Regions from separate parts of the Homo sapiens genome. Here region 1 is linked to region 2. Evidence: fine-mapped expression QTL. A gene starts in region 2. The other region holds a variant in brackets. All regions are shown on one strand. Distances are between the middles of the regions.

What was found.
Region 1: its variant is fine-mapped to the expression of TLR3 in blood mononuclear cells (TOPMed, PIP above 0.99).

The regions. Positions count from the first base shown.
Region 1 is chr4:186,199,409-186,208,137 of GRCh38, reverse strand. CYP4V2 (cytochrome P450 family 4 subfamily V member 2) reads right to left here. Exons shown (of 11, transcript NM_207352.4): 7 at 6,796-6,981; 8 at 2,836-2,938. Among named protein-coding and RNA genes, the nearest start is that of CYP4V2, 12 kb to the right of the region's middle. RefSeq lists an enhancer at 6,192-6,241. The variant G/A (reference allele first, on the strand shown) is at 3,768.
Region 2 is chr4:186,063,109-186,074,651 of GRCh38, reverse strand. TLR3 (toll like receptor 3) reads right to left here and starts at 5,496. Exons shown (of 5, transcript NM_003265.3): 1 at 5,404-5,496.

The sequences.
Region 1 (8,729 bases), 130 kb before region 2:
CATCAAATACCCTTCAAAGAAGAACACGTGGATCAAGGTACTGGATGCTAAATATCCATCAAATACCCTTCAAAGAAGAACACGTGGATCAAGGCAGGGGATGCTAAATACCCATCAAAGAAGAACATGTGGATCAAGGCAGGGGATGCTAAATAGCCACAGCTAAAGCAGAATTTCTAACATTATGCATTATCAAAATAAAATGGACAATGTGCCAAGTAAAATAAACAGACACTAAAGGTCACATATTGTACGAATCCATATATAGGAAGTACTCGGAATAGGTAAATCCAGAGAGACAGAAAGTAAATCACAGGCTTCCAGGGCCAGGGGAAGGAGGAATCAAGAGGGACTGCTTAATCCTACCAGGTTTCCTTTCGAGGTGCTGAAAATGTTCCGGAATTAGGTAGACATAACTATCGTACAACATGGTGAAGGTACTAAATGCTGCTGAAATGTACATTTTAAAATGGTAGATTTTATGTTATGTGACATTTACCTCAGTAAAAAAAAAAATAACATTTAAGGAATTAATACTTGCAAAGTATTAATTATTAATTATTTAATATTTTTATATATTTTAATATATTTTATATATTATATAATTTTTAATATAAATATAATTTAATAATTAATTATTAATTAATAATGCAAAGTAATAACTCACTACACAAAGAATAGTTGCTCAAATGTTTTTTTCTTTCTTTCTTTCTTTTTTTTTTTTTGGAGACAGAGTCTTGCTCTGCTGCCCAGGCTGGAATGCAGTGGTGCAATCTCTGCTCACTGTAAGCTCCGCCCCCTGAGGGGTTCATGTCATTCTCCTGCCTCAGCCTCCCGAGTAGCTGGGACTACAGGCACCTGCCACCATGCCCGGCTAATTTTTTTGTATTTTTAATAGAGACAGGGTTTCACTGTGTTAGCCAGGATGGTCTCGATCTCCTGACCTCGTGATCCGCCCACCTCGGCCTCCCAAAGTGCTGGGATTACAGGCGTGAGCCACCGAGCCCAGCTTAGTTGCTCAAAAATTCTAGAACTAGGATTGGGGGTAGAAGAAAAAGTGAGGCACAATGAGCAGAAAACACAAGAATCACAGAGCAAAGCTTCTAGTAATGATGACTGTGTCACTCATTCTGCAGGACCACAAAGCTTTGTGAAACTGGTAATGAGCTAAACTTTGTAGGGGATACAAAAGATTGAAGCCTATTCCAAAAGAACTTGTGAGCTTTTGGAAGACCAAATTTATCCACTCAAGGCAATCTAAGCAAAACTAAAATCAGTGTTAAAAAGATAAAATGATGACAAAAATGTTGCCAAAAGTGTTAGATGGTGTCCATTCTGCAAAATAAAAGCTTGCCTCTTAATATGAAATTCCAGTCCCAGCACAATCTGCACACAAAACTGCTTTTCCATCCTCATCTCCCAGTGAATGAGAGATGAGTTCTCGCGGTCTCTCACTCTCCACTATTGCCCTCCATGCCAGAAACCTTTCCACTTCTGTGCCGTTGCTCATCTGCTTCCTCTCTTTCTAGAATGCCTTCTCTCTCCAGCTTTATTCCTTTAGTTTTCTTTCCCTGCTTCTCACTGTAAAACTGCATCAGATACCACTTGTTGCTTGGCTAACTCAACTTTATTCCTTTTCACCTTGCAGCTATTGGGGGCCATATGACACGTGATTTTTAACAAGGATAAAATCTATGGAAGCCTCTTTGTGGCAGACTGATAATGGGCCCCAAAATATCAGGTCTTAATCCCTGCAATCTGTAAATGTTACCCTATTTGGAAGAAGAGAACTCTTGGCAGATTTGATTAAATTAAAGATCTTACAGTGGGTAGATTATCCAGGTGAGCCCTGAACGCCATCACAAGTATGTCACAAGTATGCTTGTGAAAGACACACAAGCACACACATGCACACACACACACACCACACATGCATGCACGTGCGTGCACACACTCACACCCAGAGAAAAGAGAAGGCGATGCAGAGACTGGCAGAGATAGCAGTGATGCGGCTGTCAGCCAAGAAATGCTGGCAGCCACCGGAAGCTGAAGAGACAAGGAGTGGATATTTTCCCAGTGGGCCACAGCCCTGCCCACATGGTGATGTGGGCTCAATGACACTGATCTTTGACTCGGGTGTCCAGAACTGTGAGGGAACAGACGTCGCTGCTGTGAACCTCCCTGTCTGTGGATTTGTCACAGCAGCAGCCACAGGACACCAACACACCCGGTACCCCCACCTCCCCTGTCTTCCTGCCTTGAAGATGAACGTGATGCTTGGAACGTCAATCATGAGGACAAAAGCCAAGATGGTAGGGATGGCTGGGAGCAAAAGGGCAAGTCTGGGACCCTGGACATCCTACTGGCAGGACTTTTCCTCCGGGCTGCTTGCTGTGTAATAGAAATGTATCTCCTCGAAGCTTAATCCACCTTTTTAATCCACATTTTCTCTCCTTTGTGGTGAGAGGCAATCTGCGAAACAGCTTTCCTGTACCTTTCTAAATAGTTTCACCAGCTCCTCCTTTCTCCCAAATAGCACCTTCTTCACTCAAATGCACGACCCATGACTCAAAGCCTCTGTTTCGCCTGGGTAGCAGTGAGACCCTTGAGGACAGCAGCACGCATCAGTGCACCCCAGCATCCGGCCTAGTACAGTCACTTGCCAGGCGACTGGCAGAGGCCTGTGAGTGAATGGACGAGGCCTTGCAAAGGGGATGGTACTGGAAAGGATCCCGTGGGGGAGCCTTCCTGCTCATTACACTGTGTTTACAACACAGTGACATCTCTGCAGCAGACTTAGTACCACAATATAACCAGTGAAGGGGCCAAACATACCAAACACGTCATCCAATTCATGATCCACTTTTTTCTGGACTTCTGGGTTAGAACCCAACAGGTATAAGGACCAGTTTATTGCAGCTGCAGTTGTATCGTGCCCCTACAAATGCAGAAAACAATAGCTTAAAAAGCAGAGTTATGCTGCGATGATTAGGAGTGACCAGAAACCTCTTTTGAATTGTCTCTGGATTTGATGACTGCACTGTGACTGCAAACATAAGAAATGAATTCTGTGCAGCACCTTGCCTCGGTGACAAACAAGGAAACAAGCCTGCAAAGCGGAGGTTCATGCCTAGAGATGGCAGTTCCACGCCGCACGGTGTTGCACGCTGGTGGGACGTGCCTGTGCTGTGTTAATAAAGGCGGCGTTCCATGGGCACGAGGTGAGCTGCGCCTTTGTGAACAGAACAAAGTCTGATTTTCACGAGCCTGCTTGTCAGGGCTGTACTTCTCTGCCTTCCCCCATCTGTCAGGTGGGCCTCACCTGTTGATGACGGGCACCAGGGGGTAGAGGTGTGGTTCTAAGTCATATCCTCTGCAGTAAAAATTGACAACAACCTCATTTCATACTTGCTGAGTTTTAGGCAAAATACTAAGCACTTTGCAGAAACTGAATTAATCTGCACAAAAACTCCATGAAAGACTCATTACTGTTCTTTACAATTCAGAGATTAAAAACTGAGGCCAAAGATGTGGTTAAATAACTTCTTCTGTGCTAAACAGCTTAGTGGGAAACAGAGGCAGAAACTGAGCCTGCGGCGTGTCCGATGACAAAGCCAGCTGAGCCCACGCCATTCCCTCCACACCCTGTGCAGTAAGGACGCTCCACCTCCACCTCTTACGCCAGCGTAACGTCTCCACCTCCACCTCTTACGCCAGCGAAACGTCTCCACCGCCACCTCTTACGCCAGCGTAGCGCCTCCACCGCC[G/A]CCTCTTACGCCAGCGTAGCGCCTCCACCGCCGCCTCTTACGCCAGCGTAGCGTCTCCACCGCCGCCTCTTACGCCAGCGTAGCGTCTCCACCGCCGCGTCTTACGCCAGCGTAGCGTCTCCACCGCCACCTCTTACGCCAGCGTAACGTCTCCACCTCCACCTCTTAGCGGTAGCGTAACGTCTCCGCCTCCACCTCTTAAGCTAGTGTAATGTCTCGGGCAACCTTCTTTCCCACCCATTTGATATTTCAGGACCTGGCTTCTTATCTACCTCCTCATCTCCCTAGCACATTTCCATATGCAAAAGTGGTGAGTTCTTCAGAAAAAAAAAAAATGTATCTGGAAAGTCAATAACAGTAATCTACCTCTCTGAAACTTTGAGGACAAAAAGAAAAAACAAATTATTTCCTCTATAAAAGATCTCACTTTTCCATTTTTCCTATGTGGCACAAGTGATTTTTGTAATATTTCATTCTCTGTGCAGAAATCTTCAAAGTACTTGTTTTATAAAACAGCTCCTAAAATGAATTGCTCGGGGCTTATTCTGCAATTCTTAAAAGACACAGCCTACAGGTCCTGAGGTCGGCGCCTCTGCATTTTCCTAGCACTTGCAGTTACAAAACCTACTCGGAACTCCAGATGAGCTCCGGCCCGTTGTGCTCAGTTGTCTAAGTACGGAAGGAAGTATTCTGGCTAAACAATTTTAATAGCTTTCCTTGAATTTATGAGCGGAAGCCTGATCCAAATGCATAAGAGGAGTCTGCTGAACTTCCGATTTCATTTCATCTGCCAACTGCAGAAAGCATGATAAGGCAAACGTAAAGCACCGAGGCACACTGGTGGAGCAGGGGAGGACGCCCACTTTTAGCTCACAGCTGGAACCTGGGCAGTTGCAGCCTGCACCAGCCTGTGGAGGAGGCCACAGTATCACACTCACAGCCTGCACCGGCCTGTGGAGGAGGCCACAGTGTCACTCACAGCCTGCACCGACCTGTGGAGGAGGCCACAGTATCACACTCACACCTGGTATGCTGCCTCCCTTTCAATGCAAAGAAGAAAACAATTAGAATGTCAAGGAATGTTAGAGTTGGAAGAAAAATCATTAGTCTGGTTCTGATTGTTTACGTGAGATTGAGAGGTTCCTGGTAGGAGATGGATGTGTGTGTGCACATGTGTGTACATATGTGTATGGGGTTGTGCACATATATGAATGTGTGTACGTGGATATGTACATGTATTTGTGTGTGCCTTTGTGCTTATGTACACGAGTGTACATAGCTGTGTGCATTTATGTGTGCATGTGTGTATATATGTGCATCTATGTATGTGTATATGCGCATGTGTGTATGTAGGTGTGTACATGTGTTTTTGTATGATTGCATAAATGTACATGAATGTGTGCCTCTGTGGGGGGTGGTGTGTGCATGTATGTGTATGCATGCATGTGTGCATGTGGGTATATGTGTGCATGCATGTGTATGCATGCATGTGTGCATGTGGGTATATGTGTGCATGTGTGTGTATGTGCATGAGTATCTGGGTGTGTGTGTATATTTGTGTGTGAGTGTATGCACGTGTGTGCGCATGTGGATATACATATGTTTGTGTGTGCATGTATGTGCATGAGTGTATGTAGGTGTGTGCATGTGTTTGTGTATGTGTGTATATGTGAATGTGTGTATGTTGGTATATACATGTGTCTGTGCATGTGTATGTGCATGAGCATATGTGTGTGTGTAAGTGTGTGCATGTGTGTGCATGGGTTTACATGAGTGTATGCGTGTGTGTGTGTAGTACATGGGCAAGGTGAAGATGTGAGATCTCTCTACTCCGACATGCAATAATAACACCCGGTATGTGCCGCATACTTATGGGCCAATCACGATTCTCAGAGCACCTTTACAAATCTAATCATCATAACTATTCCATGAGGCTTGTGCTATTAAAATAAGAATATTCAGGCCCAGAACGGCTAGGTGAGGTGCTTGAGGTCATGGTCCCAGCATGTTAGCTGGGATTTGATCTTAGAGCCCACACACTTAACACCTCTCTACTTTTCAGCTAATTTAGATGTCCATTTTCTGCTTAAGATTTATTTTCAGTAAAGTTTTCTGCTTAAAAAAGTTTAAAACCACCAACGTAGTCCATCTCTCGCTTTACACATAGGAAAATTGTGACAGAACTCTGGAATGATCAGAACTATCTTATTTGGCTAATCAGCACAGAGCCTGAACTGGAACTCGGATCGAAAGACCCATCACACAACCTTCTTCTACCGTGTCGTGGAGCCTCACACCAGAGTGCAGGACACTGGCACTGCCGCCAGAGGCTGCCGCAGAGCAGCTCACACGTGGGTGGCAGGCAGAGCCATTAAAAACTCAGGTGCCTTTCACTCTGCCCCATGTGGACGATATTACTACATGGCTTCTAAAAACCATGTTTTATTTATTTTGCAATCCACATATAGAGAAAGTCCCTCTTTGTAGGATTTAATATTTAGGCTATCTTGCTAAAATGTACTTCACATATGTATGTATAAATTTGAGATCAGAGATCTTTTTAGAATCATGAACTGGCTGATTCTCTGTTGGAGGGCTCTTAACTGTCCTCTAGGTAGAGTAGCTCATGGCAGCAGCTAAGTGCTCATCTGCTGGAACCTCAGAAAGCAGGTGGTGAGGAAGTGGACTTGCATGTCTGGGAGGTTAGAAGGAAGCCTGAAGCCACATGGAGAACTGAGAGCAATCTCTGGCTGCTCTTCTGCTTGGGAAAACTCTGACAAATCTTAGGTTTTCTTGAGGAAAAACAAATGTGTCTACTGCTGTGCCCAGCACTAGTCAAAATCGTTTTCTGAAGAAGTTGAGCTGGTACTTAATCAGTTTCTTAAATTTTGTAATTTCTAATTAAAATATAATGAATCTTCTTTAGTTAAACTACTTTAAAATTTGATTGTTTTAAAAAATAATGCTAAAGATTCTAACAATAACTGAAATTTGTTTAATGATATCTGAACCTAACAATATACAATACCTCAAACATGAAGGTGTCAACTTCTTCTCGAATATCTTCATGACTTAGCCTGTTCCCTTCGTCATCAGTCACACTTAAAAGCAAGTCAAGAAAGGCCCTGCGTTTATTTTTGGAGGGGGCAGAGCCCCTGCCATCACCTCTACAGTCTTCATTGGCGTTCATTTCATTGGCCCGTTCAGCGATGACCTGTATGATTTGAATGATAATCACATGCTTCTGTTTGGACTTGGATGCACCCTAGTTAACACATTTTCTTATAAAATATGCTAGTTTCTTTCATTTATTTTTCTAAGCCTATTTCAACATTTCGACAACATAGGCTCTTGTGAAAATACAGTAAAGCCTCATTAATATTTTGGGGATTATCTGGTGAAACTTTTAAAAACAAATTTAATGTCACGCAAATTCCTAATTTTCAAGTGCTATTTTTGCAGTCTTTCCAACACAAGAATAGAATCATAGTCTACTAGATAGTACCCTAGAGATTGGATTGCGCTAATGAGAAAAAGTTTAAGTGGTAGAGTGAATGCAATCATTATACAACAGTCTAATTATAGACTTAATTACATGTTGTAGAGGAGAAAAGAAACAGCAAGCAGATTAGTGAATTCACCCTCTATGCTTGCGATTTCTGCTGCCTGAAATGCTTTCCTCAGAGGCCTGCACGGCTGCCCCCTCCCTTCTTCCAGATCTCTGCTCATTGTCACACGATCAGAGAGACCTCCCTCATCCCTGCTACCCCTGTCCCTAGCACTGCGACGCCTCCTAACAATGCTTTTTCTCCATTTCCCTTGCCACCTGACATTATGTGATACTTCTGTCATACTTATTATTATAATGTGATATTATACTTACGTTATACTTATTATTTAGCATCTTTCTCTTACAACTCAAACACTGCCATGCTTGTGCATGTCTTTGTTCATTGATACATTTCCAACCTCTAGAGCACTGCTTGGCATTTAACAAATACTCACTAGATATTTCTTGGATGGATAAAAGAATGAAGGCCAATACACTTAATTTGGTTGTACATTTCAACCTTCTTTTCCTACCAGGTAATTGACCAAACCTGCTACTAAGTGGCCTGAATAGATTCTAAGCAATTTGAGGGCAAAACACCATGTCTTTTTTTATTCTTGGTGGAATTCCTAGAGCCCAGGCCTCAGTAGGCAATTCTCAATGTTTATTCAATGAATAAAATTGTCTATTCAGTCTGGAATTCATTTAATTATTGCTATTAAATATTAATGCACAAAATTTAAGGAAAAATATAATTATGAAATATAACCTGCTGGCTATTCTCCTATAACCAGGTGATCACACTCCACTGTGGCCAGCTCAGCCAACATTGCATTCATGGAACATCTACTGATTTATTCATCATTTGCTCTCTTGGGGGTAGGGTGTACTTCACCACAAGGACATAACTCCAATAGATTTTAACCAAAATTTACAGCAAAGAAAGGACATATTTAAACAGGCAGTTTTTTAATACACTGAAATTATAATTTGATGTATATTTTCAATTAAGTCTTGCTTTTTCAAAACACATTATTAACACAAAGATTGACATCCTATATTCAAAACAACATCACTATCTTCTGGTTATTTTTGAATTGGAAATAGAATACTAATATCTAGTTAGTTTTAATGTTTTCCATGTTAAGATACTGCTATCAATGCCCTCTGCCTTTGAAAATGACTGCCGAATCCAAACATTTTCCAGAAAACTCCTATACATAGATCTTTGTTCCTTTATTCTTTTACACAGCACCCTGTTTGTTCATAAGTGTTCACAGCTCATATCACATGTTGTAATTATGTGTTGATAGATCACCTCTCCTACTAGAATAACTTCCTTTCAGGTACGGACCATATACACATGTCCTACTCATTACTACATTTCCAACATTTGGTATGGTGGTTAGCAC
Region 2 (11,543 bases):
AGTTATAATAAGTTAATTATTACTGAAGAAAGTAAAATTTTTAAATAGGTTTAGTATAACCTAAGTGTGCAGTGTTCATAAAGTCTGCAGTGGTGCACAGTCATGTCCGAGGCCTCCACATCCACTTCCCTTCTCACTCACAGACTCACCCAGAGCCACTCCCAGTACTGCAAGCTCCACTCGTGGTAAGTGCCCTATGGAAGTGCCATTTGTAACCTTTTGTACCACATTTTCACTTACCTTTTCTATGTTTAGATACACAAGTACTTCCCATTGTGTTACAATTGCCTCCAGTATTCAGTGCAGTCACACGCCGGCTGTCTGGTTTTGCAGGCTGGGCGCCACAGGCTGTACTACCTAGTTCTGTGTAAGCACTCCCTGTGACGTTCCCACAAGGATGAAGTCCCCTCACGATGCATTTCTCAGAACATATCCCCATGATTAAGTGCCACATGACTGTGTTCTATTTCTTTGGGGTAAATAACTAGGATTGGAATGCCTGGGCCATTTGGTGAGGCCATTTGGTTTTACAGGAAACTGCCAGATCCTTTGGGAAAGTGTTGCACCACCAACTTTCCTGACAACATTTGGTACCTATTTTTATTATTATTTTTAATCATTCTGCTGAACATATAGTGATAGCTAATTATGGTTTTCATTTGCATTTCCCTGCCGACTAACGATATTTAACAATTTTCATGTGCTTATTGTTCATTTATCTTCCCTTATATGTTCAAATATTTTGCTCATCTATTAGATTGTTTCCTGTTTATTATTGTGTTGTAGGAATTTTTTATGTATCTGAGTGTCAGTCCTTCGTCAGATTCCTATTTTGTAAATATTTATTCCCAGTGTGTGAGTTGCCTATTTATTTTCTTACTGATGTCTTCTTAATTATGATGAAATCTAGTTTATCATCTTCTCTTTTATTTTTATCATTTCTGTGTCTCCTCTAAGAAATTTTCCTACTCCCATTACTTAGATACTCTCCTCTAAAAAGCTTTATGGTGTTAGCTTCTATGTGAAGGTGTGTGACCTCTCCTAAGTTAATTGTTGTGTATGCATGAAGTAGGAGTCATGGTTTTTTGTGTGTATATCCAGTCAGTCAGATCTTGTTTTTTGTTTTTTTTTTGAGATGGAGTCTCACTCTGTCACCCAGGCTGGAGTGCAGTGGTGCCATCTTGGCTCACTGCAGTCTCCACCTCCTGGGTTCAAGTGATTCTCCTGCCTCAGGCTCCCGAGTAGCTGGGACTACAGGCACGCGCCACCATGCCTGGCTAATTTTTATATTTGTAGTAGAGACAGGGTTTCACCATGTTGGCCAGGCTGGTCTTGAACTCCTGACCTCAGGTAATCCATCCACCTCGGCCTCCCAAAGTGCTGGGATTATAGGGGTGAGCCACCACGCCTGGTCCAGTCAGACCATTTTTTAAAGAGACTTCTTTCCCCCACCGGATTGTTCTGTGCTTTCCTTAGAAACCGAGTAAATGTTTTAAGCGAGGGTCTATTTCTGGGCTGTCTACTCTCTTCCACTGAAATATTTGTTAGTTCTTAGGCCAATACCACATTGTTCGGATTACTTTAGCTTTACAACAAGTCTTGAAGTTCAGTGAGCGAAACCTCCCATCTTGCTCTTCTTCTAGATTGCCTTTTCCGTTGCTATGGTTGATGGAAATTATCCAATATTGTGTATTATTTATTATTAATTATTGCTTCTCACTAGAATGTGAAGCTATAATAGTAGAGGACATAGTTCTTATTCCATACGGTGTTGTCTGTGCCTAGAACAAGACCTGGCACTTTGTTGGCTCTGAAGAAATAAATATATGTTGAATACATAGCCGATATGGTTTGCCTCTGCGTCTCCACCCACACCACACGTTGAATTGTAATTCCCAGTGTTGGAGGTGGGGGCTGGTGGGAGGTGACTGGCTCATGGGGCAGAGTTCTCACAGATGGTTCAGCACCACCCCCTCGGTGCTGTTCTCCCGATAGTGAGTGAGTGAATTCTTATGAGATTCGGTCGTTTAAAAGTGTGTGGTGGTTGGGCGCAGTGGCTCACGCCTGTAACCCCAGCACTTGGGAGGCCAAGGTGGGCAGATCACCTGAGGTCAGGAGTTTGAGACCAGCCTGGCCAACATGGTGTAACCGTGTCTCTACTAAATACAAAAATTAGCTGGGTGTGGTGGTGGGTGCCTGTAATCCCAGCTACTGGGAAGGCCGAGGCAGGAGAATCGCTTGAACTAGGGAAGCGGAGGCTGCAGTGAGCCGAGATCCCACCACATGCACTCCAGCCTGGGTGACAAAGTGAGACTTCGCCCCCACTCCCCCCAAAATAAATAATAAAAAAATAAAAGTGTGTGGCACCTTCCCCTTCTCTCTTCTTCCTGCTCCGGCTATGTGAAGGTGCCAGCTCTGGCTTTGCCTTCTGTGGTGGGTGAAAGCTCCTTGAGGCTCCTCCAGAAGCAGAGGCTGCTATGCTGCCTGCACCACTTGCAGAACCATCAGCCAATTGAACCTCTTTCTTTATAAATGACCAGTCTCAGGTATTTCTGTAGAGCAATGTGAGAATGCACTCATACAATAGCTTTCCATGGGCATTTAGTCAGCTCAGGAAAGCCACTCAACTCCATACATTGTCACACTTTATTTTGGTGGGATGTGTACCCAGTGTGATACTCTGTGGTGTGATCAACAACCAAATTTCAGATATTTTAAAAAATCAAATACACCCACAAGGTATGGAGATGAAGCAGTGGTAATGATATCTAAATAGATATTCCACAAGATCTAAAAGTCATGACATGAAAATTATTCCAGGTAAGTGTCAGGTAATAAAATCACCTTAGGTGACTAATCCTAGGAAAACAGAACTAATGTGAGTATATAGAATTGTTCTAATATACTTAAAAATAGCGATTTTACTAATATTCTAATTTAGTTCTCAGAAACAGAAAAAACAACAAAAAAAACTGGCTTCCATAAACTAATATTCCCATCTCATGGCCTTTACAACTCTGGCACTAATCATTGTAAAGCTGTGCACATTCTTTATATCCACAGGCCATGAGGAATGCCACAGCTAGGCCAGCAAGGATGCATTTGCTGACTTGCCCAGGCACGTGAAGGATGCAGGGCTGGCAATGATACCTCTCAAATGCTGGGGACCAGCTCCCCACCTGCCCCCTCTCTGAGAGTGTCCCAAACCTCTCTTCCAGTTCCTTCAGAACTTCCTATCTCTATTTACCAACTCATAGGTAAGGTCCCTACAATACATTCTCCTTGCTTAGGTGAGATGTACCCCTCTGGTAGGGCTCCTGCTATAGGTCAGAATTGCTGAGAAGGACTAATCCATTACAAAGCATATCCCTGAATGACTTAAGGACTTGCCCCATCTGAAGACATTTCATCAGTGGGCAAAACTCACCAAATGCTAGGCAGGAGGAGTGAAAGAGGAACAAACTTGGAGAGACTCCTATGAAATTTCAGAATTGCAACCATGCACACAAAAATCCTAAAACCTTCATTTCCAAAGAAAAGAGATCTTGATTAATAAAAAACTTTTCATCAGTAACATGAACCACTGGAAAACAATAGAGATAAGCTTTCCAAACATTTAGAGAAAATTATTTTGAATTTAAAATTTCATATCCAGGCAAAGCATAGTGGCTCATCCCCACAATCCCGGCACTTTAGAAGGTGTAGGCAGAAGGAGATCAGGAGCTCAACACCAGCCTGGGCAACATAGTGAGACCCCGTATCTACAAAAATATTTTAGAAAGTAGCCAAGTGTGGTGGCACAAGCCTGTAGTTCCAGCTACTTGGGAGGCTGAGGCAGGAGGATCGCTTGAGCCCAGGAGGTTAAGGCTGCAATGAATCATGATCACACCACTGCACTCCAGCCTGGGCAACAGAGCAAGACCTTACCTCTAAAAAACAAGAAAATTACCTTTGACCAGGCCAAGAAAATTACCTGTGGCTCATGCCTGTAATCCCATCACTTTAGGAAGCTGAGGCTGGAGGATCCCTTGAGCCTAGGAGTTTGGGACCAGCCTGGGCAACACAGGGAAACCTCATCTCCACCAAAATTTTTTTTTAAATTAGCTGGCCATAGTGGTTCACACCTGTGGTCCCAGCTACTCGTGACACTGAGGTGTGAGAATTGCTTGAGCCAGGGAGGTCAAGGCTGCAGTGAGCCACGATCATGCCACTGTACTTCAGCCTGGGCAACACAGCGAGACCTTGTCTCTAAATCGATAAATGAAATAAAATGAAATAAAATAAAATAAAATAAGATAGGGAAATTTCACATCCATCTGAATAACTAAATAAAAAGGTATAAGTATTTTGAGATATGCAAAAATTCAGTAAGTTTATAGCCATACGATCTGTATGAAAAGGTTATTCTAGGACATGCTTCAGTAAAACAAGCAAAAATGCAGTTAAAGGATGAAATGAGAGTGAAGAAAACGTTGCTGTTGAATGAGATCTAGCAGAAATAAAGAAAATGAAAAAAAATTAAAAAGAGACTCACTCAGCCTTAGAATTTTGGAAATATTTTGTGAGGGCACATGGAATTCACATTCTTTGTCCAAGTGAGAGACAATATTGCCTGATGGTTAGGACATGGGGTCTGGAGGCAGACTACCTGGAGTTAACCACTATCCATAGTTTGATTTGTAAACTTTGCAACCTTTGTAGTAGGTTCATACACAGGCACGCCCATATGAAGACACATACCAGCACGTAATCATCTGTAAACCTGGGAATCAACTTGCTGAAGCCAACTCCATTTTTACCCGAGTACCCCACAATTGCCGATACCAGTTTCTGATCTTCCCATACACCTTAACAACTTTCCACTTCTCCACTTCTTCCATTATCCTTCATTAGGTGAAAGAAAGCCATTTACTTACTCCTAGGCATACCTGAATGTTCTCTCCTATCTAAGACATTGTCATACAATGCCAGCTCCTGTCTCCCCTCCAGCCAATAAAACTAACAAAAGGGGATACGCTCTTTTAACCTCTTGGAGTTTTGTTTCTTTAAGGCAAAGATGTGATTTGCTAAAAAGACTGTTGCAAAATGATTTCCATAGCTTCCCTAATGTGTTTTTTCCAGGTACAGAATGCTACAGAGAAAAAAATTAAATACTGCATAAATACATTATCACATTAACTAGATATTGGTGCTATTACTTGTGTTCTGAGTTATACCCTTCTCCCATGCCCATATCATATCCCTTTTCTTCCACTTTCCTTCCTGAATAATTCTGACTAGATTTCAAGCACCAGATCAAAGAAAGACCAAAGAAGGCTAAAACCACATGCATTCTGCTAGCAAACTCTACTCAGCAAGAGAGACCCTGCCCAGTAAGAACGTGAAATGAACACCTTCACTTACTTGGATGACTGCTAGCCTTTCCTTTTTTCTTTAGTCCAAATCCAGACATTTCATCAGGGAAGTGTGTGGCAAATAGACGGCACTCTCGAAAGTGAAAGTAAAGCTTGAAAAAAAATGCTTTTATGTTTGGTGCATTCCAAGAAGGGCAAAGGGAGAAAACAAAAACAATCTCTGACAACCTCAGAGAGGCGTTTCAAACCGCCTCTGAAAAACACCTAGTTTTTATTTTATTTTAACTTTTTTTAAGCTGAGATCCTTGGATTTCATTGAAAGGGTCACAGATTTAGCAACAGCTAAAGTTGAAAGTGGGGACCTCACCATTTGATGTGGGCGGGTCTGGACCTCTGCAAGTTAAGGAATAACAGTGAATCCCTCAATTTTCTGCTAGACTCATGCGAAGCTGTCAGAATTGAGTAGTGTATGGTCACAGGGACAGAAAAAAAAATCCCTAATCAAAGCTGAAGTACTTTCCCTTCTTTCGTCTGGCTTTTATCTCTTTGCAACACTGTAAAATAACACCGGCAGAAATTAACCTCTTGATCCAGGAAGAAACTGAGTTTCACAGCAGAGAAAGAGCCAAACATGGCAAAGCTGAGAGCCAGTCCCACTCCTGCTGATCCACTTTTCCACGGTCAGACGCGTTAGGGAACAGATCAGTATGCCCAGAAAAGTTCAGATTAACTAAGAATTTCGTTCTTAATTTGCTTTAATGACTCCAACTAGTTAAGTAAATGTACTTGTTAAGAAATGAACTCACTTTTTTTCATTACAGATGTGCTATGATCTATTATAACTATATTGTTATATAGTGAAATATCACAATTGGAAGGAACTATAGACCACCTAATCTAACTCCCTTGTTTGAGAAATTAGGAAAACGAAACCTAGGGAGGTGAGTGGTTTGCCTAAGAACATGCCACAAGCCACCATATGCTTCAATCACACAAGTCATAAAACAACTGGACGGCTGGGACATGGCATTAGCTTGAACTCATTGCAGAGCTGATGGCAAGAAACAAGCGTGCATCATGGTGCAAAGTGCCCTCTTGTGGGCTCCAGCTTCAGCTAGACCGCTTTATAGTTACTGGGCTCAGGGCTACATGTCTCTGATTTTCATTTGTGACATCTGTAACATAACACCATAAGCAAACAGATGTCCTGAGTACGTGACTGTCCCTCACATCTATCCATTGGGATGTCCAGGAAAACTTCACTAATATTCAAAAGATTTCTTCTCTGTGAGCGCCTTGAAGGCAGGGTGAGGTTTATTCTTTGCATTATAGCTCCCCAGCAACCCTCTGAGGTAGACTGTTTCTTTGGCCTTCAATGAAAGAGACTCGTCCTCAGAATTCAAACCCTTGTGTGGCCTTCTCCCACGCTGACTCTAGGCTTGGCCATTTGACTAGCTTTGACCAGTGGGATATTAGCAAGCATGCAACAAGGTCTCATTGCCAAACACGATTACCCAGGCTTGAGAAGCAAGCAAATAAATGATTGTTGTTTTAAATTTAAAAAAATTGGAATGGTGTCATATGCATTATTAGCGAAATAAAACACATCATCTCAACAATCCTTCATACCTATCCCTTATGCCTTATGACTCCTTATACAGATTAAATTTCCCACGACTTTGGTTGACTAATGAATGGCTCTCGATAAATAAATTTTATTGATGGTCTCCTGATGCAGTAGTTTGGGCTTAATACCAGTTCATATTCAGATATTATTAGTCCTTAATTCTTGCTAGTTTCTAAATACAACACAGATTGTTTTCTCTCTACTGTACATTTCTTAACTATGTGCATTAACTTATTTAGCTATGATGGTGATTGGAGCAATAGTGAAAAACCTCATTTTTCCCCTTTTTAAAAGAATTAAGGCTGGGAGCAGTGGATCATGCCTGTAATCCCAACACTTTAGGAGATTGCTTGAGCCTAGGAGTTCAAGACCAACCTGGGCAACGTGGTAAAACTCCATCTCTACAAAAATTACAAAAATTAGCTGGGCATGTTGGTGCATGCCTATAGTCTCAGCTACTTGGGAGGCTGAGGTGGGAGGATCACTTGAGTCCAGGCAAATTCAAGTTTGCATTGAGTCATGAGTGCGCCACTGCACTCCAGCCTGGGTAACAGAGGGAGACCCTGTCTCAAAAAAAGAGAGAGAGAGAATTAAAAAAAAATGTATGCCCATAAATGTAAAATAACAAATTTAGTAAACACTGATATTTCACAGCATTACAGATCAGCCAATCTCAGAATAATGGGAAGCTGTATATTCCCAGCAAAACAGAGATCTACAGAATTCTAGAAGCCAAAGTCCCTTAAATTTATTCACATTCTAAAAACTCTAAGTTCCCTTCTTCCATTTGAGGGGCCTCTTTAATGAGAGTTTAGTAAGATAATATACACAAAATTTCTGGAAGAATCACTTGACAAAACACAGCAAGTTACAGAGACCGGAGTGACAAGCCAGATATAATTAGCAAATTACCACTCACATGCTGAACTACACAGACACTGTTCTTCTCTGCCCGTTCCTAATAACAATTCTTAATAAAACAGCCGTTTTTATTTTTTTTAATCTTTTTTTTCCTGAGACAGAGTCTTGCTCTGTCACCCAGGCTGTAATTCAGTGGCGCGATCTCAGCTCACTGCAAGCTCCGCCTACCGGGTTCAAGTAATTCTCCTGCCTCAGCCTCCAGAGTAGCTAGCTGGGACTACAGGCACGTGCCACGACGCCCGGCTAATTTTTTGTATTTTTGGTAGAGACGAGGTTTCACCGTGTTAGCCAGGATGGTCTCGATCTCCTTACCTCGTGATCCACCCACCTTGGCCTCCCAAAGTGCTGTGATTACAGGCGTGAGCCACTGCGCCCGGCCAATTACAACCATTTTACCTATAGACAAAGATAGTGTATAGTCTGTAGGCAGTCTAGTCAATTCATTATAAGATTTATAAGGGAAAGTTTATCATTTTCATTATCATCATTATCAGCACCTACAATACTGAGGCTTTACGGAACCATCTTTACAATCTCCCGAATGAATGAATTTAGACATGAGGATTGTGTCACCGCAGTTTCTAACCACAAATATAGAGAATTGAAATTGTGGGGCAAACAGAAGACTCTCCTCTCAATGCATGTATGTGAAAAGGCAGATTAGTACTGAACAATACAATAATTACACTCTGTGAGGGCCAAATATAGAGAGAACTAATTGCTCAGTAATACTTAACATTTGTGCCAGCAATGAATATCCAATTATGAGTGAGCTGTTGGGTATTTGAGGCAATATCATGCATAGGTTTAATTTAAACGGGCTCTTAGAGTCTCAGAAGTAAACCTTTATTCATGGTGTTAAAGTACATTAAAATGGAGACCAGGCCAGAAGAATCCATGAACATACCAAACCAGCAAGGGCTCATAAGCGACCTCGACCTTGCTTGATCTGCAAACATAAGTGACATACGCAAACATAATAACTTGAGCACTATATCTTGTAAATGCCTATATTAAAGAAAACGTAAACACAACCAATCAGAAGCAGCCAACAAACTTATATAACTAAGGACTTTCCAATGAGATAGACCAAATAAGGTAGCTGTATAACTGTAAACAGTCAAGCGCTGTCTTTGCTCTACTTCTGTCTCTGTCCTGAAAAAGCCTTCTCTTGTGTTCCCTTGGTGGAGCTCCCCAACCACTTCTGGTTCATGAATCATTGCTGGTTCAGAAGCACTGTAAAACTGTATTGTGCCTCAGTTTACTTTTTTATTTGTATAGATTTATGGGAGTACTAGTGCCATTTTGTTCCATGCGTAGATTGCATAGTGATGGAGTCAGGGTCTTTAGGGTATTCATCACCCAAATAACATATATTGTGCCATTAGTATCAGTTTACTTTTTAAGAATAGGAACAAGGAGATTGGACCAACCAATGTTCTCTGGGTTGGCAGGAAGCCAAAGTAAGGCTAGACCTTTTCATCATTCAAACTTCTCATGGGTATGTAATGCGATGAATATATTATGAACCTAAACAAATGGTTAAATTCCCTGAGAGCACCAGATAGACAGTCATTGTGAACTGCACTCAACTGGTCCCTTCACAGCCCCCATTCAGAAAGGACATGGTTCTGATCTGTATTGGCTGAAATTCTAGGAAGCATTTCTTTTCTTTCTGAATCCTTTCTCTAAAGTGAAGATACAGTTCCTCTTACCAGTGTCACTTCTATTTCTGCTCACTGAGCTTTCGCTAGTTTGAACTAGGCTCAACCAAAGACCCCAGCAACAACTTTAAGAGAGAAAATAACAAATGTCCCTCTCCCTACTCTCGCTCATGTCCACTGAGCAGTATTGAAGTTGAATTTCCCCTCTGAAAAAGAAACCAATGTTTGCCACAGAGAGCTTCTGGTTTAATCTAAACTTTTTTTTTTTTTTTTTTTTTTTTTTTGAGGTGGAGTCTCACTCTGTCTCTCAGGCTGGAGTGCACTGGCACGATCTCAGCTCACTGCAACCTCTGCCTTCCCGGTTCAAACAATTCCTGCCTCAGCCTCCTGAGTAGCTGGCACTACAGGTCCCTGCCACCACACCTGGCCAATTTTTGTATTTTTAGTAGAAACGGGGTTTCACCATGTTAGCCAAGGTGGTCTCGATCTCCTGATCTTGTGATCCACTCACCTCGGCCTCTCAAAGTGCTGGGATTACAGGCGTGAGCCACCGCGCCCAGCCTAACCTAAACTTTTATTTATTTATTGTATTTTTTGTAATTTTACAAGGTAGTTGAAAGTGATACTTTTTTTTTAATGTCATGAGATATGCACTGTTTTATTCCTTCATTTTAAGCCACTCTATCGAGGTATGATCGATATACAAAAAGCTGTGAATATTTAATATATATAACTTGATGAGCTTGAAGACAAGTATACTTCTGTGAAACCATCACCACAATCCATACCATAAACATATCCATCACTTCCAAAAGTTTCCCTTTATTCTATTCATTTATTATTATTTTTGTGATATATCACAACATGAAATTACCTTTTTGGCAAATTTTTAAATATATAATACAGCATTGTTAACTATAGGCACTAAACTGTACAGTAGATCTCTAGGGCTTACTCATATTGTATAAGCTGGACTTGGTGCCCTTTGACTAATACCTCTCTGTTTATGCCTCCTCCCAGCCCCTGACAGCCACCATGTCACTCCCTCCTTCTATGAGTTTGACTATTCCAGATTCATCATATAAATGATATCATGTAGCATCCTTCTGTCCTTCTGCATCTGGCTTATTTCACTCAGCGTAACATTCTCTGGGTTCATCCATGTCGTCACAAATGGCAGAACTTCCTTTTGTAAGGTAGAATAATATTCCATTGTATGTGTATGCCATATTTTCTTTATCCATTCATCCATCAATGGGCATATAGGTTGCTTCCATGTTTTAGCTATTGTGAAGGCAATAGCATTGAAAAGAATAAAATACTTAAGAAAAAACTTAAAGAAGTGAAAGACTTGAACACTGAAAACTATAAAACATTGATGGAAGACATTAAAACAGACACAAGTAAATGTAAAGACATCCTGTGTTCATGGATTAGAAGAATTAATATTATTAAAATGTCCATACTACTCAAAGTGGCCTACACATTCAAACATAATCTCTATCAAAATCTCAATGGCATTTTTATAGAAATAGAAAATTTTCCTAAAATGTATTTGAAACCACAAAAGACCCCAAATAGCCAAAGCAATCTTGAGCAAGAACAAAGCTGAAGGCATAAAATGTCCTGATTTCAAAGTATGTGACAAGGCTACAGTAATCGAGACAGTATGGTACTGGCTTAAAAACAGACTAATGGAACAGACTAGAGAGCCCATAAATAAACCCATGCATAGATGGTCAAGTTCTTTGACAGGGCTGCCAAGAACACACAACAGAGGACAGGATAGTCTCTCCAGTAAATGGTGTTGGAAAGCTCAGTATCCATATGCAAAAGAATAAAATTGAACCCTGTCTTACACCATACACAAAAAATCCACTCAAATTAGTTTAAATACCTAAACATGAGATGTGAAACTGTAAAACTCTTAGAAGAAACACAGAGGAAAAAGCTTCTTGACATTGGCCTTGGCCAGTG